3 linked regions of the Homo sapiens genome follow. The protein of the gene in region 3 purifies or fractionates together with the protein of the main gene of each other region. This does not show direct contact. Each region holds a gene or a part of one and is shown on either strand. Other genes may lie near its edges.

Region 1 (6,709 bases), on a different chromosome or scaffold from region 3:
TATGTATTTTATGTAGCCTTTGTCATTTTCTTGCTTTAAAGGAATATATTCGACTCTGTCAGAAATATTACTCCTCAGAACCCCAGGCAGTAGACTTCCTAGAATGTGCAGAAGAAGCTAGAAAAAAGATTAATTCCTGGGTCAAGACTCAAACCAAAGGTAAATCCAAGAAAATATTTTATTTACTTCTTTCCAGTTAGAAAACTCTGATCTATCTTTTTCCATCCATGAACTTAGTTAGCCCTCACCCCTTTACAATTTGTCCAACTGCAGTTACTTTGGTGGATGTGAATTTATTCCTGATTAGCTCAGTGGTGTTTTAACTGAGAAGAAATAATTGAGGCCTACTAATAGAAGACATATGTTTAGTACTTAAATATTTGATTTTGGATATTGCTTGAGGATAGAATATGAAAGGAGGCAGAAGCTTTCAAAATAGGAAATATCAGCATTGAAATAATTGTGAGTCTATGCCCACTGTGGACAAAAAGAAAACAAGGCTTGACCCTGAGCTTAGTAAATGGTGTGAGCTATAAAGAATACAGGCAGTGGAGGAGGGAAGAATCATAAAATTATTTTCACTCTTTCTTCTCTTTCACCATTCAAAGCCAATCCATTGTCAAGTTTTTTTGGTCTCTGCTTCATCCCTCCTTGATTATCTAAGTCACGTCTACCATTTTAACTCATGCTTTTAATTGTTTCACAGGCTCCTGCCTCCCTCTGTATATTTTACAATGAATAAATTATTTAATTGAATCATTTATTCATTGTAATTTAGTTTATTAAGTCATTTATTCATTGAATTCATTCATTCATTAAGTTCTATTAAGTTCATTCACTTAGTCAACAAATATTTATCCACCACACACCATATTCCAGAAACTATATGTGGAGATAAAGATAAAAATGGTAAATCCTGCCACCATAGAGCCTATAGAGGAGGGATTCAGTCATGTTGGCAATTGCTATAGAGTAGTAGTCAGTGCTTTCATTGAGAAGTACAGGTGCTATGTGGGAGTACACAGGAAAGGCATCTGACTGGATTTAAAAATGATTAAATTGTAATTGGGAAGACAGGCTGGAGCTGGCCAGGTGGAGGGTGCATGCCTGGGGGGAGATTTCCAGACAGAGTGCACAGAATATGCAAAGGTCCAGAGGTAACCCTAAGGAGAAGAATAGAGTCTGGTCTGACTGCAGTGTGGAGGGCCAAGGGAAGGAGGTGAAATTAAAGAGGTGATGCAGTACACTTATTATGCTATTCCCACACTAAAAACTGTCAGTGACCTCCTACTGTCCTCAGGAGAAGGTCTCATTCTTTACCTTGACTTCTGAGTTCTCAGTAATCCAGTTGACTGTGCTTGGCTACCACTGGCCCTTGGAGCTCCTTAAACACTCATTGCTGCCTCTAGACTTTGTTTCTGAGGATGCCTCAACTACAGGATTTAAGTTGCAGTTTAAATTGCAGCCAAAGTCTTACTCTTTCCTGGAAGTGACTCCCAATTACTTCCTGATCTTTTCTTCTTCTCATCTCCTCATCTGCTTTTTCAGCTTCACAAGTCACATTAGTGTTAGCCATATATGGCCTTAAACAATTATGGAACTGATTTTTGTTAGTTTGTTTTGCTTTTCCTCTCAGGCTCTAATTATTTTTGGGTAGGTCCAGTATGTCACACTTATCCTATGCCCCCACAAAAATTTGCACAGTTTTTTGCTGACAGTGAAAATCCTTCATTCTTCTGAATTTCCAGGTAGAGTTGTAGGCCTTAAGTAAACAATTGCTGAATAATAACATATAAATGTATTTCTAAGAAACAGAGATGATTATGAATTCAGAATTGTGTAAGTATTTCATTCATTTATGATCTGTTAGGATTGAAAATGTCCTAAGAGAGCTCCTATCCATCTTACCAATTTGTGGTTGGAGCATCCTGTTCCCAGGGGATTAGCCGGCTCCCCTAAGATCCCACTGGTAGCGGTAAAGCCAGGGTTGCTTCTTCTTCTGATCCTTAGTCTAACTCCAGAATTCCTCAATCGGATGTTTAAAAATTTTATAACTTATTTTTTTAAGGATTTTCATTTAACTCTTATGTTTAAGACATTGTTTCAAGAAATAGTTTGGTGTCTTGCTTTATTAATTACCACAATGGAAAATGCACATAAACTAAGTGCTATGGGATTTCAAAAAATATATATTTATTTGTTTATCTGAAAATAATTGATTTCCTTTTAGTTCTTCATTTTCATTGTGGATTTGTGAAATACTGTTCTAAAATATTGACAGACCACTGACACAAAGGAAGCAGAGAAAGATGATTTAAATCAAAAGTTCAAGTAAAAATGGAGAGCAAAATTAAAGAGACACATGGAAGTTTTGCCTTCTTTAAAGAATGGCATGAATTGTTTTTCTCTTTAGACATTGTGCTAAATGGCTGTAAGTCAATCAGTTATTTTGCCAAAATGCCAAGCAGCTATTTTGGCAGATTGTTTTACCAGCTTTTGTAAGAATTGGAGAGAATTGTCTGTTTCATCATGCTATGATCAAATACTAGTTTTATCATATACATCACAACATTACTATACCCCAATACTAACCAAAAATTTTAATAGCTTGGGAAATATATTGAATGTATATATTAAATGAATACATTGAAGATGAAACTGATGCAAGGCAGGCAAGCTCCAAAGTGGGGCTTAGCCTTCAAGGGTTCTTGGCTTCACCCAGGAAAGTATTCAAGGGTGAGCTGGAGGTAGGGTAGAAGAAAACAGCTTTATTGAAGTGGCAGTATTACAGCTCCATGATTCCTCCTGCAGAGAAGGGCTACCCCAGGCACTGTGCTGAGAGGCACAGCTCAGGGCAGTTTGGGGGTCATATTTATACCTACTTTTAATTACATGTAGATTAAGGGGCAGTTTACGCAGAAATTTCTAGGGAACGGGGAATAACTTTTGGGTCATCAGGTCATTGCCACAGAAAGAGGTGGTAACTCCAAGGTGTTGCCATCACAATGGTAAACTGACATGGTACACTGCTTCCATCCTGTCCCTGGTCCCCATTTTAGCTAGCCCTCAATTTGGCCTGGTGTCTAAAACCTGCCTCCAGAGTCAGGTCCCACCTCCTACTTCAAAACCACATTGACCTATTAATTTGTTAAGAGTCTTGTATTTGTCAGTAGTTTTGACTGTGGAGGCAGAATTTTTACAAGCTTACCAGCATTGTAACGTTGGGAAGACTGCTAACCTGGTGGTGTCCTTTTGCATAAAATGACACTAATAAAACCCACCTAATAGAGTATCAAAATAATATATTTTGATGCTTGGAATACTGCAGAGCGAGTACTAACTATAAACAAACTGCTTCTTAAACCAATTTCATTTTTTTAAATGACCACACTCATTTGTCATTGTTTCTGTCAATCTTCTCGGGCTTACTCCTTCACTCCCTTCTCTGTATGATCATAGTACTCAATATATTATTTAGCTCAATTACAGAAGTTATCACACAGGGTTTCACAACTGATTTTGAATGTCTCCCCCAGTGTTCTAGGCTCATCCAGGATAATTCTTCCTTTCTCATCTCTTGTATCTGCACTACTCTTAATTTAGGTCTAGTATATTTTTTACAAAACGTTTTTGAATAAATGAGTAAGTCAGATCCTCAGACTATCTAGACCAGATCTAGCAGTACATGATATATTTTGGAAAGGCACTATTATATTCCCTAAGAACCTCTCTTTCACTTCCCTCTGATTTGAATAACTTTCAACTGCCAAGCTTTGAGAAAAGAATATAAAAGGGAGTGAAAATCTCCATTCCAAACTTGATAGGCGGTCTAAATTTTAAATGCATTATTTCTTCATTTTTTCTTGGATTTTGCAAGCTTTTGGGAAATTTGTTTCAATTTTAATTTTGCTTTAAATAAACCTAAAAAACTTTAGCTTGAAGATTAACAACTCTGCAATTTGAAGAATTTAGTTTGATGGCTACTCAGAAGATTCAGTAAGTAATTTCACAGTTCTTGATTATGAAACCTAAATATATGTTATGTTTTCTGTAGGCAAAATCCCAAACTTGTTACCTGAAGGTTCTGTAGATGGGGATACCAGGATGGTCCTGGTGAATGCTGTCTACTTCAAAGGAAAGTGGAAAACTCCATTTGAGAAGAAACTAAATGGGCTTTATCCTTTCCGTGTAAACTCGGTATGAGACAACAAAATACATCTTCCTAGCATATATTTTAGGGCTTTTGACAAGATATAGACAGAAAAATTAGAGACCGCTCATTATAGACTTGCTAGTTAGAAGTTATGCATGTTGGACAGTTGATTGACTCTTTAGAAACAGTATAGGTAAAGGGGAAGACTGTGGCTTTTTAATTATACATGCCCAGACTCCAACGTTGGCTCTACCACTTATTTCAAAGGGCTGTAAATATTGAGACATGGCACGGTTCCTGGCCCATAGTAAGAACTAAACAAGTGTTTTAGAATTATGGTTGTCATTACCATTGTTGTCCATCTTACTAAATAATGGGTATAAAGTTGAACAAGCTAATAACATCAGAGTACCCACTGTAAGGATGTACAAATAATTTATTTTGTTGATTTAAAAAAATCACATTTATCCTACACTAAAGTAGAACCAATCCTCCTTTATGTCTAATTGTAAATCTCTTGATATCTTATAATCGACTTCCATATTTTACCTTTTAATAATATTAGGCTCAGCGCACACCTGTACAGATGATGTACTTGCGTGAAAAGCTAAACATTGGATACATAGAAGACCTAAAGGCTCAGATTCTAGAACTCCCATATGCTGGAGATGTTAGCATGTTCTTGTTGCTTCCAGATGAAATTGCCGATGTGTCCACTGGCTTGGAGCTGGTAAGACATTCAGATATTTAAGTTTCTGGGGCTATACCTACCTTTCGTGAGATGAGATGAATATATACTCCTTACAAATGGTGTGGTAATTTCTCATGGAAATATATGAAACAGTTGATAGTAAATATGGCATGCCTCTACATTTCATTCAAAGCCTTAACTATGTCATACGTGTTACCTTCTTGTAAAAATCTGACCAATCTGTTAACTTTCTATATCACCCACAATATAGTAAAGTCACTGATTTTTAATATTAGACTTAAAGTTGTTTTCCTTCTTTCTAATACTTGCTGTATTTTCTTTTGTTTGTTTTGTTTTGTTTTGCTTTGCAGCTGGAAAGTGAAATAACCTATGACAAACTCAACAAGTGGACCAGCAAAGACAAAATGGCTGAAGATGAAGTTGAGGTATACATACCCCAGTTCAAATTAGAAGAGCATTATGAACTCAGATCCATTCTGAGAAGCATGGGCATGGAGGACGCCTTCAACAAGGGACGGGCCAATTTCTCAGGGATGTCGGAGAGGAATGACCTGTTTCTTTCTGAAGTGTTCCACCAAGCCATGGTGGATGTGAATGAGGAGGGCACTGAAGCAGCCGCTGGCACAGGAGGTGTTATGACAGGGAGAACTGGACATGGAGGCCCACAGTTTGTGGCAGATCATCCTTTTCTTTTTCTTATTATGCATAAGATAACCAACTGCATTTTATTTTTCGGCAGATTTTCCTCACCCTAAAACTAAGCGTGCTGCTTCTGCAAAAGATTTTTGTAGATGAGCTGTGTGCCTCAGAATTGCTATTTCAAATTGCCAAAAATTTAGAGATGTTTTCTACATATTTCTGCTCTTCTGAACAACTTCTGCTACCCACTAAATAAAAACACAGAAATAATTAGACAATTGTCTATTATAACATGACAACCCTATTAATCATTTGGTCTTCTAAAATGGGATCATGCCCATTTAGATTTTCCTTACTATCAGTTTATTTTTATAACATTAACTTTTACTTTGTTATTTATTATTTTATATAATGGTGAGTTTTTAAATTATTGCTCACTGCCTATTTAATGTAGCTAATAAAGTTATAGAAGCAGATGATCTGTTAATTTCCTATCTAATAAATGCCTTTAATTGTTCTCATAATGAAGAATAAGTAGGTATCCCTCCATGCCCTTCTGTAATAAATATCTGGAAAAAACATTAAACAATAGGCAAATATATGTTATGTGCATTTCTAGAAATACATAACACATATATATGTCTGTATCTTATATTCAATTGCAAGTATATAATAAATAAACCTGCTTCCAAACAACAATACATTTGTTGTCATTTCATTAGGTCTGCAGATCATAGACCTTGACTCCTAGGAGTTGAGCATTATGACTCACTTGTGAGAACTCAGAAAAAATAGACAGGATGAAGGAGCCAAGGACATAACAACCTTCATTCAAAAAGACCCAATGTTGAGGGTCAGTGGGATGGGGTTGTATGAAAAATGGGTTAGAGCTGCTTTCTCACAGCAGCAAAGACATAGCAATTCAGAATAGTCTAGGTTAGAGTCCTTTGGGGAAACCACTGTCTAAACATTAAGGACACCAGGATTAATGACCAAGTCCAGTGGTCCAGACACAGAAGAAGGCCTCAGTCATTGAGCTCAGAGTTGCAAGCAGTGAAGATGGGAGATGGGTTGGGTGCAAGAGCAGGAGGGGAAACATAAGATGGCTCTTTCTAAGTGTGTTTGTTTCTAATAGCAGTAATGCTTTTGAATGAGTCAGAGGCAGAGGAGAACATAATTGAAGACCTGAGAAATAAGGCAAATTG
Region 2 (7,207 bases), about 120 Mb from region 3:
GTCCAGAACAGTGTCAAATGCTCACCTGCACATTAGAATCATTTGGGGGCTTTTGAAAAACCCCAGTGCCAGCCAGGCATGGTGGCTCATGCCTGTAATCCCAGCACACTGGGAGACTGAGGTAGGTGGAATGCTTGAGCTTAGGAGTTCAAGACCAGCCTGGGCAACATGGTGAAATCCTGTCTCTACAAAATATACAAAAATTAGCTGGGCGTGGTGGCGCACACCTGTCATCCTAGCTACTTGGGAGGCTGCAGCACAAGAATTGCTTGAACCTGGGAGGTGGAGGTTGCAGTAAGCCGAGATCACACCACTGCACTCCAGCCTGGGTGACAGAGTGAGACTCTGTCTCAAAAAAAAAAAAAAAAAAAAGTAATTTACAGAAAAATAAGAAAGAAAAACCCCAGTGACTAGCTTCCATATTGGACTCATTAAAACCAGACTCTCTAGGTGGAGCCTGGATGTCAGTGTTTGAGAAGCTCCAGATGACTCTAATGCTTGGTCAGGGTTGAAACTCCTGCTGCCTCATTAGATCTCTGTCCCGAGACCTTTTGTTCCAGTCTCTCCTGGGGAAGGGTCCACCCTGACCTCTGGCCTTTCATTCTTTCCCCTATCCCAGCCCTCTGTCCAAGCCCACAGCTCCTTGAGCTTCCTCAGTGTCCATGTTCACCCTTACATCCATTAAAGCCCCCTCATCCTAGGCTGGGCACAGTGGCTCATGCCTGTAATCCCAGAACTTTGGAAGGCTGAGGCGGGTGGATCACTTGAGATTAGGAGTTCAAGACCAGCCTGGCCAACATGGTGAAACTCCATCTCTGCTAAAAATACAAAATTAGCCAGGCATGGTGGTGCGTGCCTGTAGTCCCAGCTACTTAGGAGGCTGAGGCAGGAGAATTGCTGGAACCCGGGAGGCAGAGGTTGCAGTGAGCCGAGATGGCACTACTGCACTCTAGCCTGGGCAACAGAGGAAGAATCTGTCACACACACACACACACACACACACACACACACACACACACAAGCCCCCTTATCCTTCCAGGCCCGTATCAAGCCCCAGCTGTCCAAGGAAACTTCCAGGACATTAAGTGGCCTCCGCCTTCTCTGGGAGTTCTCCCAGCCCTCTCCCCTGGGAGCACATACTTTAGCCTGTTTTATAGCATAAACTGGCTGCTTCACATCTCAACTGGAGCAAGGACACACCTGATGCCTCTGTTCCTCAAGCAGCCCAGCAAAGAGTCTATTCCATTCCACTCAACGTCTGTGCTGGGGGCTTGGCACTGGGGGTGACATGCACAGAGACAAAGAATAGCCCATGTTTTATGGTTTAGCTGCAGGGTGCAGTGAACAAGGGAGCCACCATACCCAGTGAAACCGCAGACGAACTTCCTCTAAGTGGGGAATGTCACAGAATCACAGATGTCAGCATTAGAAAGTGCTAAAGTTGAAGAGGGGAGCTGGGGCCGGGGGGGAGGAATAAAACAAAAAAAAGAAAGCGCTAAAGTTCTTATCTAGTCCTGCTCTGCCTGCACCGCCCTACACATACCCATACACGCATAGTGCAGAAATCTCTTCTATAGCATCCCTTACCATCCTCTTCTTGAAGGCTTCCAGTGATGGGAAACTCACCACCTTACCAAACAGCCTCTTCTACACCTCTTAAAGCCTTTACTTTTCCCCACTCTGCCATAGTGTGGTGAGTTATGGACCCGCCTACCTCCACTACTACACTGTAGGGTCCTTTAGGGCAGGAAGTGTATTTTGCCTCTGGATCTAGCTGGAACCTCATGCAGGTGCTCAAAGAATGCATTTGATTAACTGGACCTGCTGGGCTCTGATTATTAGACTGGGGTGGCACCTAAGGGATAGCCCAGGATTTCAAAAGGCTGGGACAGGCTGGAGCAGCCCCAGGAGGCAGAGAGCAGGGGCTAGGGGTCCCAGACTGCCATGGGGCTGGGGGAGGGGAGGACGCAAGTCCTGCTGGCTGTCCCATGGTCCTGACTTAGGCTGTCTTTGAGGACACACTGGGGGACCTCGGAGAGGAGGTCACCGTTACACACACCTTTAAGGAAAGACTTGACAGCCATCAGAGGGACAAAAATCCTGCCGGGGTCCAGTGGTACCTTTGCCTTCCTCAGACCCTGATTCCACTGACCCCCAATAGGTCTCTTCCCTTCACAGTCCCTGCTTGCCCCTAGGTGTGAAATGAAACAGCACCTCCACTTCTCCTGGTGGAGGTAGGTGCCCACCCTCGAAACCAAACTGAATCTCCCAGCCTGGGACATGGCATTCTCAGAATCTAGGTCCAGAGGCCTCATTTGGGGATTCCAAATGGTTTTTCCCCTGATACCAAATAGGTCTCCTACCCTTCCCCAGGGTCAACCACTTCCTCCCTCCCCACCTCCTACCTCAGACAGTCCACCTAGACCCTCAGCCAAGGTCTTCCAGAGTTTGCAAAATAATCAAATGTGCCACTTGCATTTGAATTCAAATGGCTAGGACTGCCCTGCCCCCTCCCCAAGCCACTCCCACCCAAATAGCATCACACCACAGTCCTGTCTTGGGGACAGGCAGCTTCTAATCTGATTTCACCTCCAGTCTGGCTGAGGGCCTTCAGGAGCAGTGTGGTGGCCTCCGTCAGGAGGTCTGGCACAGCTGGGACAAGCCCTGACCCAAGAGTTCCTCCATGTGCAGCATGGGCACAGCCCACCCATCCTCCCGGGCAGCTTCACAGCTGCCATCAGATCAGGTGCCTGGAGCCTGGCATAAGGCTGGCAGGACAGCAGGCTGGGGGAACTCCACCCTGGCACAATGTGGTATCCAGAAATGTGGGTCTCTGTTCCCAGGCCACCACAGCCAGCCCTCGCCTGCCCACCCAGGAGGGTACCAGCCAGCCGCGCTGGCAGCCACCCTGCCACCTTCACCTTTCAACACTCCTACTTTCCTTTCTTCCTCCTACCTCTGCTTCGTAGGTTCGTCTTCCTTCCAGCCTGCCCCACCCGGCTTCTCACTTCCCTCTTACTTCTCTGGCTGCCCCAACCACCAGCCCCACCCACCAGCCCCACCCCTGGGCTCCTTCCCCAGCCGGTGTGGAGGCGATGTCCCCCGACAGGGAGGGGCAGGCAGTGCTGGGAGGCCAGCAGGCCTGAAGCAGAAGAGCAGTCACTGGGGTGGGCAGTGGGTATGCCAGGCCGTCTCCTCAGAGGGGCACACAGGGAGGCTGGAGGTCCACACAGCCCCACCACAGTGGCCTCAGCCCGCTGCAGGTCACAGCCAAGGCAAATCAGGGAGGGCATCTCTGAGTCTGAGACCAGCAAGGAAAGCCATGTTCTCCATTCAGGGCCTGGGGCAGGCGCGGCACAGCCCCCACCGCTGCTGGGTTAGTCACATTTTCTGGGCAGGGTCACTGGCTTCACATTACTTTTTCCTCCTCCCTCAGTTTGTCTTTCTCCTTGCCCTGAATGCAAGTATTTGATTTTTTTTAAGATCAGTTTTTTGGTTTTTTTTGTTTTTTTTTTTTTCCTGAGACAGGGTTCACTGTCACGCAAGCTGGAGTGCCGTGGCATTATCACCGCTAACCGCAGCCTTGAACTCCTGGGCTCAAGCGATCCTCCTGCCTCAGCCTCCTGAGCAGCTGACACCACAGGCCTGCACCAACATGCCCGACTAATTTTTTTATTTTTTCTGGAGACAGAGTCTTGCTACTCAGGCTGGTCTAGAACTCCTGAACTGAAGCAATCCTCCCACTTTGGCCTCCCAAAGTGCTGGGATTACAGGCGTGGGCTACTGCACCTGGCTAAGCTCAGTTCTCAGGGAATGGCTGAGGCCATAAAACATTCTTCACCATCTTCCGCATGCCATGCTGATGCCTCTCAGGTCTCTACCCTTTGGTCTGCTTCTCATTCACCAGATGTTTATCATCATGACTTCTGGGCCCTGGGCCCTCTGAGAGACAGCCCATCCTGGGTTGACCCAGGGCAACTATCCTGCCTACATCACAGTCACTAGACCCTAGAGCTTGTCTCCTCCAACTCGCTGGCTTTCTGGAGGACACCGAGGTCCTGAGAGCACAAGAGACTGCCCACAAACACACAGGGAGTGGAAGCCCCTGCAAGGGAGGCTCCCATTCCCTTCTGAATCCCTGGGGGAAGGATGAGCGGACTCAGTATGAGGCTCCAGGAGAAAGTGAGCACCCAGTTATGCAGCCACACAAGCGTAGTTCCTCTGCCCAGAACCTAGCCGGCCTGTCCTGGAAAGGTATTGGTCAGCAGGCTGGCTTGAGACAAGGCTCCAGGTTCAGGGTCAAGGCCTGGGGACCCTGGAGCAAAATCTGGAACAAATCTTCCTAATTAGCAGACCTTCAAACAAAACCTCATTATTTGACTGCGTGGGAAAAGTCTGGAGAAAATACAGTACTGGATAGGCTGGGCATGGTGGCTGTCTCCGGTAATCCCAGCACTTTGGGAGACTGAGGCAGGCAGATTACCTGAGGTCAGGAGTTCAAGACCAGCCTGGCCAACATGGTGAAACCCTGTCTCTACTAAAAATACAAAAATTAGCCGGGCATGGTCATGGGTGCCTGTAATCCTAGCTACTGGAGCGACTGAGGCAGAAGAATCACTTGAACCCAGGAGGCGGAGGCTGCAGAGAGCCGAGATGGCGCCACTGCACTCCAGCCTGGGAGACAAAGCAAGACTCCATCTCAAAAAAAAAAAAAGCAATACTGGATGAATGTTTCTCATTGAAACGAAATTGATAAAATTTCACTAGAGCAAGACGGGAAGTTAAATCTTCTCCCCAAAGAACATGGCCTGTAGCTAGCATCCAAGTGTCTCCATGGCCAAACTGCCAGGCTTAAAAATAGGGTAATATGGGCCGGGCGCGGTGGCTCACGCCTGTAATCCCAGCACTTTGGGAGGCCAAGGCGGGTGGATCATGAGGTCAGGAGTTCGAGACCAGCCTGGCCAGCATGGTTAAACCGCCATCTCTACTAAAGACACAAAAAATTAGCCGGGGGTGGTGGCGCATGCCTGTAATCTCAGCTATTCAGGAGGCTGAGGCAGGAGAATCGCTTGAACCCGGGAGGCAGAGGTTGCAGTGAGCCGAGATTGCGCCATTGCACTCCAGCCTGGGTGACTGGGCAAGACTCAGTCTCAAAAAATAATAATAATAACAATAATAATAGGGTAGTTTGGTGGAGGGTGGGAGGAGGGAGAGATTCAGGAAAATAACTAATGGGTACTAGGCTTAATACCGGGGAGACAAAATAATCTGTACAACAAAGCCCCATGACACGAGTTTACCTATATAACAAACATGCACATGTACCCCTGAACTTAAAAGTTTAAAAAAGAAAAAAAAGGATAGTCTGGGTGAGAATCCCAGTAGGGCCTAGTCCCCACAAAACCACAGGCTGGGCGGTTAACCTGGTAGAGTGATAAGAGCTAGACAATTTGGCTCCTTACTAGCTGTGCAAGTGACTTAACCTCCTGGAGCCTCCCTGTGCCCCAATCTGTAACACGTGCATACAGTTAAATGTGAAGATGAAATGAGATCCTATGATTAATGAGCAAATAATACATGCTCGATAAACCCAGACTTCTTTCTCTTCCCTTTAGTTTGCAATGTGCCATCAGCACCTGAGGTAGAAATGTGCCTGGCCACTCCCCTAGCTCCCGGTTTCTCCACAGGAGGAAAGAAAGTTAAACCACAGAGCACTCTCCTATTTCCATCCCCAGCCCCAGCGCTGGAAAGCTTCATAGATTTTGGTCACAACAGCGCATACCTTGGGTGGCTCTTAAGTTCTGGACTCTGTGACCCACGGAGGGAACAAGGATCAATGGGAATCACTGTTCCTCACACTCAGCTGTCTAGGCTAAAGCCTCTCCTATCACCACAGGAAAAAAGGGGAGAGGTTTACACATTAACAGCGAAACAACTGGCTGGGCGCAGTGGCTCACGCCTGTAATCCCAACACTCTGGGAGGCCGTGGCGGGCGGATCACCTGAGGTCAGAAGTTCGAGACCAGCCTGACCAACGTGGCGAAACCCCATCTCTACTAATAATACAAAAATTAGCTGGGCGTGGTGGCGGGCGCCTATAATCTCAGCTACTCGGGAGGCTAAGGCAGGAGAATCGCTTGAACCCGGGAGGCGGAGGTTGCGGTGAGCCGAGATCTCGCCACTGCACTCCAGCCTGGGCAATAAAAACAAAACTCCGTCTCAAAAAACAAACAACAACAACAGCGAAACAAAAGGGCCGGTCGCTCAGCCTAGGACTCTCGGGAGCGGCTAGGAACTCAATGCACATGCTAATGAGTTATCTGGTAACGACGCTCTAGAACTAGTTTTTTTACCAGACGCACAGTGTTCCTACCCTTGTGGTCTCCCCTGAGCACTACTGCTTAGTTTGTCCCAAATGAAGTAAAATAAAGTATTTCTTTAGCACGGACCCACCCTCTCCCGCCTTTTCTTACAGGAAGCCAGGAGACGGCGCGCCCCTAAGAGAGGACCCCGGCTGTGGGAGAAGAGGAGGGAGCGGGGCGCCCCCGAACCGGCTAAGCCCGTTCGACCCCTACATGGGGAGCCCAGGTCCCCGGCGACCGGACCCCGAAGCGCACTACTTGCCTGCCAACGCCTTGCTCCGAGGCCCTGGGCGCTGTCTCAGCCGCCCCCCGCCCCCTGGAGGTGCGCGGCCAGGAGCCGCCCCCGGTGAGTCAGAGGGAGGGGCCCGGCCGGTCTGAGCTGGCGGGGAGCCCCTATGGGAGGCTGGGGCGCCCGAAAGGGTCCTAGAATTGGGCGTGGGAAGGAGGGTATAGGGGAAGCTAAGGACAAGCTTACTGTGCTGTAAACTTTGCGAGAGAATTGCAGTGTTCACTTCCATTCAATCGTTAGGCCCCCGGCCTCAATCACCCTGTGAACAGCTACTGTTCTGTGAGAGCCTACTATGTGCTTGGTGCGTCCTCACATCTACTATCATTATTCCTGCTGGAAACATGAAGTCTTTGGGAGGCTCAGAGAGGGTAACTAACTTGTCCAGAGTGTCACATTGCTAGTTCAGTAGCAGAACTAAGATTTTTTTTTTTTTTTTTGAGACAGGGTCTCACTCTGTCGCGGCACCTGGAGTGCGGTGCTGTGATCACAGCTCACTACAGCCTCAACCTCCCAGGCTCAAGCAATCCTCCAGCCTCAGCCTCCTGAGTAGCTGGGAC
Region 3 (7,025 bases):
CAATAAATGCACTTCACAATCCCTTTTATATTTTTTCCACTAATACATTTTAACTGTGTAGAAATATAGTACTTCATAGGATTAACACACATATTAATAGAGGTTTAATCACTGAAGAAAAGCATTATGCTTACAGAATATGCATCTTCTAGGTTTTTTGTTTTTTTTTAAATGGCTAGGTGGCTGAATAGCATACCCTTTACAGGCACAGCAAACCGTCTGAATAGCAGCTGCTCAGTTTAACTTATTCTTTTAAAGGGAAATATATTCTAACAGGACATGTAGCTGTTGAAAATTTTTAAGAAAAACCTGATAGACACCAATTTAAAATTGTTTCAATTTAGACTCAAAATGAGACCACTACAAATAGTCAACAGCAGGGGGATGAGACAAATGTATATTAAACAGTTTGTTGAAATGCTTTCCAAAGATCATAAACAAAAGCAGCCTGTTTGTAGCATAGCTCCTGGTGCTTCCCTGGGCATACACAAACAGCACTATTTAGAACTGGTCTTCTTGGAGCTGGCCCCTGCCACCACTGCTCCTGAAGCTTACATCTGTAGAAACCTGCACATTTCCCTGCAGGTTCTCTGATACTGTATCTTGAACTAGAGCACCAGTCAGTTCAGTTGCAGGTTTTGAGAACATTTTAGCTGCCATCATGGTAGGGCTAAGTGTTCATAATAATAAATTTTGCTTCCTTCAAGAAACCAGTTTGCAGACGGATGACAGCAGTGATCAAAGTCACTTTAGTTTCTGCAATTTCCAAAAGTACTTCCATTTGTTTCAAATTCATTTGCTGTCACACCCTTTGCTAAAACGGCTACCAGCAATATCACTAGGGCTGTTCGGTAAACAGTAAAGTGGTCAACTTCACCAGAAGCCACTTCAACAGCTACCACAATTACTGGTTCCTTTTTAGTCACAAGTATCCTCACTTCAGTTGTGAATATATGGTATGGTAATTCTGAATGACAGTCATATGGAGTAATGGGCAAAGGCAATAAAAACAAACTCTTGCCACTGCCTGTCATGACCTTGATCTTCCTCTGCTGCTCAACATCATCAAGAGGTGCTCCTTCATATTTTTCTAAATGCCACCCACAAAGCCATTCTCACTGTCTGGTGGGCACCCTGAGAGCCTTTGCTGGAAATGCCTCCCTGGCTCAGCCTGCCTACCAAGCTCCAAGGCCCTTCCCTTCACGGCCGACACGAGGCCAGCCTGGAAGGAACCCTGATGAAGCTGCTGTTTCAGGGTCATATTGGTGCCATCTGTGAGGAACTCCATGACTCAGCAAGGATCCTTGCACTCTCATAGGTAACTCAAGGCCCCCAAAGTGGTGCTGTGGTTGTCCGAGTGCCCAGGGAGCCTCTCGAGTGTGGTGAGCGTTGGATGATGCCCCAGCAGTGCTTCTCAGACCGCCTGAGGGGAACGCTGGAGCTTCCTAACTCAGGAGACCAATTTCTAAATACAAAAAACACTCCTAATGGGGAGGGGTCAGGGGCACAGGGATCTTCATATCTCAAGGCTTCTGTAAAAACAGACCTTCAGATAAAATGTGGAAAGACTAGCAAAAGCAAATATACAATGTGTGACTCAGGTTGAAGCTACGTAACTTCTCAATAGTCCAGAGGCCCTAAGACCTAATAGTGGCCAAACAATTATTTCAAAGGCCAGACATATGCCCTTTAAGGGCTGTTTATACCCTACTGGTCACATGAAAAGATATAAATGAATGAATGAATGAATGAATGAAAAAGAGAAAGGAGCTTGAACTGGCAGATAACTTTTTAAAAGCCATAAAGAGGCCAGGCGTAGTGGTTCATGCCTGTAATCCCAGCTCTTTGGGAGACGGAGGCGGGCGAATCACAAGGTCAGGAGTTCAAGACCAGCCTGACCAACACAGTGAAACCTCGTCTCTACTAAAAATACAAAAATTAGCCAGGCATGGTGGCGCATGCCTGTAATCCCACTGTAATCCCAGCTACTCAGGAAGCTGAGGCAGGAGAATCGCTTGAACCTGGGAGGTGGAGCTTGCAGTGAGCCGAGACTGCATCACTGCACTCCAGCCTAGGCAACCGAGCAAGACTCCGTCTCAAAACAAAAAATAAAATAAAATAAAGATATTTACTGTGCTATGTTGTTCTGGTAGTATACTTGTAAGATTTTTGCCAAAAACCACCCAAAAAATATTTTTCAATTTATCAAGCAGATTATTACACATCAAAACCTACCAAGTAATGATGGAAAATATGAAGTTAGTTTTTTTTTTTTTGAGACAGTCTTGCTCTATTGTGAACTGTTATACTAAAGATAGACAGATATAGTCTTATGCCTATTTCCATTATCTGCATAATGTAACCTTTAAAAATATTCCTTAAATTGTTAACTTTATAGGAATAAGATACTGGAAAATGGTTAGAAAGTTCACCAAAACCTTACAAACTCACATGTCCTCAACTGTAATGTCCTTGAGGATCTGGCAGTAGTCCACATTCCATACAGCCTGATCGTCCCAAACCTTGGAGGCAAGAAGAATGGCTCCCAGAACAATCCTTTTCCAGTTGGTGGGACAAATGTCGATTTCAGCATAAGTTAAAAGCCTTTCTAAGTAAACCTGTAAAATAGAGCACTGGTCTTTGATTTTAGTTCAGTTTAAATGCTTTGATAAGCTTTTTTTTTTTTTTTGAGACGGAGTTTCACTCTTGTTGCCCAGGCTGTAGTGCAATGGTGCGATCTCGGCTCACAGAACCTCCGCCTCCCAGGTTCAAGTGATTCTCCTGCCTCGGCCTCCCGACTAGGTGGGATTACAGGCATGCGCCACCATGCCCAGCTAATTTTTGTATTTTCAGTAGAGACGGGGTTTCTCCATTTTGGTCAGGTTGGTCTCGAACTCCTGATCTCAGGTGATCCACCAGATCCTCCCAAAATGTTGGGATTACAGGCGTAAGCCACCGCGCCCGGCCCCGAAATGCTTTGATAAGAATTCATGACTGACAAATTTCTTTTGTTTTTGACCAGAAAATAAGTGCCTTTTATTCTTATGTTCTACAGAGACTTTGCTTACTCAGCCAAAGCAAGACACTAAATCACAGTTGTAGGTCAGATATCTCTGCTGCCTATTCTGCCCATATACATTTCCCACCCAGTCACAGGAATGACTGGACATCTCAGCAAACAGCATCATCAAGAGAGGCACTCTTATCACCTCCACACCCATAATAGAGTTGTTCAATAAATAATGAGTGCCTACCAGGTACAATGTATCATACTTGCATGGTAGATAGTAATTTTACAGGTAGCTATATTATGCTCAAATATGTAAAACCCAAGTAATACTGAGCACATTTTTACCTTCTCCTTTTCACAGTAACTAACCCTTTTGTGGCACTAGCTTGAAGAACTGCTGGTCAAGAGAGCCACCCAGTGGCTGCTGTGCAGAGCAGCATGACAGGTCTTTAGGCTGTAAAATATTCCCCGTATTCAGTGCCTCCACAAGGAACACAGATGGACAAAAGGATGTCTCTGGACCCCTGGTATTCCTCTAAACCTGCCAAGCAGTTTATGAGACAATTTCATGAATTATTTTACATCTACCAAACATCCTTCAAAGAACTGAGCAAAGTGAACAGCTGAGTAAAGATTTCAGAGGTAAGCTGTAATTTGCTGTTACCTCAAAGGGTTCTCTGTGGAAGAGTATGTCTATATGCTGTTTGAACTCTGTATCAAGACAAAAAGAAATCTTTTTAGGCTGGAGTGCAGTGATGCAATCTTGGCTCATTGCAACCTCTGCCCCCTGGGTTCAAGCGATTCTCCTGCCTCAGCCTCCCAAGTAGCTGAGCACCCGCCAGCACGCCTGGCTAATTTTTGTATTTTTAGTAGAGACGGGGTTTCACCATGTTGGCCAGGCTGGTCTCAAACTCCTGGCCTCAAGTGATCTGCCCACCTCAGCCTCCCAAAGTGCTGGGATTACAGGCGTGAGCCACTGTGCCAAGCCTGAAAAAAGTTCATTTTAACAGAGCTTATTTACTGTCTGAAGGTTATCAGATAGGCAGATCAGATCTGGCAGTGTTCTCCAAACTGGACTGTGTTTTCAAAAATGGATATTGAACATGACATGTTCTTAAGAGAGATTCTGTTCCCTTTCCCCCAAATTCTGCACTCTCAGTATCCTAACAGGGTTCAAATCTCAATGGGAATAATTAGACCACAGGGAAACAACATAGACAATCCCTCAACTTCCTGTTGCCTTTACGGGTAAGCTGGTGATGTGCTGATGCTCACTGATACCACTTGCCCTCCTGTGTCAGTGTGAGAGTTCTTTTCTTCCCACTAAAGCCAACTCCATCAGTGCAGTTGATCCCCTCCCACTTGTGCAGAACACTGTCCCCGCAACTGCGTCTTTTTGAAGGCTTTCTCCTTCTCTGCCAGAGATTTTCCCCAACGTGTTTCCTTTGTTCCCATCCCCCTCCCCACAACTCCCCGGATGTGTCCTCTCATTTGCTCAAAGCATCATGTCCTGGTGTCAGCTTCTCATCTCCCATCTCTCCTTAACCCACTCCTGTTTGTCCCTTGCTGCTGTCACTCTCCTGAGACTCCTCTTGCCAAGGTCCCCAGAGTCTTCACACTTACAAGCCAGAGCTCTTCATCCCACTGCTCCACTCCCCAAGTCTTCCCTAATATTGTACAGGGCATTTCCATTCACCTAGTTGCTGAGACCAAATACCTACATTCAAGTTATCCCACACCAGACTGTGCACAATTCCTGCTATGTCCACCTTCATTGGTAGGCTGCTCGCTTTTGATTCTGAGCTGCCATTTGTCACTGCTCACCTGTATCACCCTCGTTGCTTCTTAACTCTCTTCTCTGCCTCTATTCTGCCAATTATGGCCTACTCTCTTCAAGCCATCAGCATAACTTCTTAAGAGCACTTCACTCCCCTGCTCAAAATCTACCTAAAGTACCCATCAAACTGGAATAAAAACTTCTTCCTGGCCAGGCGCAGTGGCTCACACTTGTAATCCCAGTACTTCGGGATGCCGAAGTAGGCGGATCACCTGAGGTCGGGAGTTCAAGACTAGCCTGACCAACATGGCGAAGCCCGGTCTCTACTTAAAAAAAAAAAAAAAAAATTAGGCGTGGTGACGGGCACTGGTAAGCCCAGGTACTCGGGAGGCTGAGGCAGGGAGAATTGCTTGAACCTGGGAGGTGGAGGTTGCAGTGAGCCAAGATTGAGCCACTGCACTACAGCCTGGGTGACATAGCAAGACTCCGCATCTCAAAAACAAAACAAAACAAAACAAAAAAAACCTTCCTGTGGCCTGCAAGCCAAAAGGCCCTATGTGACCTCAACCTCCTCCACTCTTTCCAACTCACTCCAACCACACGGGACACCTTGCTGTTTGTTCCTTGAACACACACACACACACACACAAAATGTTCCTGTCTAGTCTTGGCACTTGTCTGGCTGCCTGTAATGCCAGCACTCTTTACCTTCTTGCTTTGATCAGGTCACTGCTCAAATGTCACCTCTAGAGAGGTTCTTCCTGATCATTCTATCTAAAATAGTGAGCCCCTCCTGTCACTCTGTATCCCTTTATGCTGCTTCATCTTCTTGCTACTTACCACTACCTGAAAAAATGTCTTCCTCACTAGAACATAAGCTCATAAAGGCAAGAACTTTGTTCAATCTGCCTCTCCTCTACTCTAGCACTTGGTAGCTCACGTCTGTAATCCCAACACTCTGGCAGGATCACCTGAGGTCAGTTCTGAGACCAGCCTGGGCAACATAGCTAGACTCTAGTTCTACTAAAAAATTAAAACAAAACAAAACAAAAACAAAAACAAAAACAAAAAACAAGAATAGTGGCACAGAGTAGGCACCCAGTGAATATTTACAGAATCAGAAACTTCTTGGCAGCATTTAACACTGGGACCATAGCCTCTCTTATCTTGATCTCTGTTCTTTTATTACCTTCTCCTGGGTTTCCTCCTTCCACTCCATCTGGGAGCTTGTCCCTCAAAAATGCTAACAGTCTTTAGAGATCTATCTTCTATCCACTTTCTTTTCTTTTTTTAGAGATGGGGGTCTTGCTATGTTGCCCAAGCTGGACTCAAACTACTGCACTCAAGTGATCCTCCCACCTCAGCCTCCCCAGCAACAGGGACTACAGGTGTGCACTACCATGCCTAGCTTCTCCACTTTCATTCTGCAACCTTTCTCTGTATTTGAACAGCTACTATAACTCTTCATTCCTTACCTCTAAGCTCAGATTCATGCTCCAGTCCGGTACATTCAAATGATTATTGGACACTGTCACTGCTACCTCACAGGCACATAGAGCTTAAACCATCTAAAATGAACTCCCCTCTTCCTGTACAGCTTCCTCTCCTGTATCACCTGTCTCTCTACATCTGGAAGCACCACTCCTGCTTCTCTACAGTATGTGCTAAGTGTTCCAAATGGCTTACAGCTCCATGAAAAGGCCTAAGTCTGATCCAGTACCCACTGAGGGGCTTCTATTCAAGTGCACAGAAGCCTTCTCTCCTAAATTCCAATTGGATGCTAAAGGAGTAGGTACTGACCTAAGTATTCTTTCCCTCCAGGCCATGCAGTTGACCTTCCTCTATAGGTTTGCTGTGGGGAGGAGTAAAACAATCCTAACCACTTGAATAGGATTTATTATTCAATGATAAAATCTTACCATAGGAATTCTGTATGGAGGACATAAAGTTAAGGACACAGCTATAGCTTAGTAAGCTAATCAGCAAAGCCTTTGTCCAAGTATTGCTGGTACCACATTGCTGGGCAACATCACGAGCAGGCACAAGAGGTAGGCAGAGATGATTAAAACCCATCATCCAAGGAACAAAGAATTTAGGGCAATAGTTCTCAATCACCACACATATCGGAAATACCTGGGGAATAGAGCCTGGGACTTGGCTTAGACCTACACTGGAATCAGTATCTGGCTCTGAACCACATGGTTTTGTTACCACTCCCCATCACCCCCAGCCCTGCCA

What was found.
Region 1: the proteins of CCNYL1 (region 3) and SERPINB2 purify together in Homo sapiens (affinity purification with mass spectrometry; 2 studies listed by BioGRID and IntAct, with this or other methods). This does not show direct contact.
Region 2: the proteins of CCNYL1 (region 3) and CAPG purify together in Homo sapiens (affinity purification with mass spectrometry; 2 studies listed by BioGRID and IntAct, with this or other methods). This does not show direct contact.

What each region holds. Positions count from the first base shown.
Region 1 is NC_000018.10:63,897,686-63,904,394, forward strand, and holds the end of SERPINB2 (plasminogen activator inhibitor 2), read left to right. Parts: intron 1-41; coding exon 42-159; intron 160-4,054; coding exon 4,055-4,197; intron 4,198-4,718; coding exon 4,719-4,883; intron 4,884-5,215; coding exon 5,216-5,620; 3' UTR 5,621-6,203; downstream 6,204-6,709. UniProt on the Homo sapiens protein: Inhibits urokinase-type plasminogen activator. The monocyte derived PAI-2 is distinct from the endothelial cell-derived PAI-1.
Region 2 is NC_000002.12:85,407,361-85,414,567, forward strand, and holds the start of CAPG (macrophage-capping protein), read right to left. Parts: upstream 3,007-7,207; 5' UTR 2,957-3,006; intron 2,950-2,956; exon of another isoform or gene 2,922-2,949; intron 2,453-2,921; exon of another isoform or gene 1,201-2,452; intron 1-1,200. UniProt on the Homo sapiens protein: Calcium-sensitive protein which reversibly blocks the barbed ends of actin filaments but does not sever preformed actin filaments. May play an important role in macrophage function.
Region 3 is NC_000002.12:207,742,640-207,749,664, reverse strand, and holds part of CCNYL1 (cyclin-Y-like protein 1), read right to left. Parts: intron 2,619-7,025; coding exon 2,452-2,618; intron 1-2,451. UniProt on the Homo sapiens protein: Key regulator of Wnt signaling implicated in various biological processes including male fertility, embryonic neurogenesis and cortex development. Activates the cyclin-dependent kinase CDK16, and promotes sperm maturation.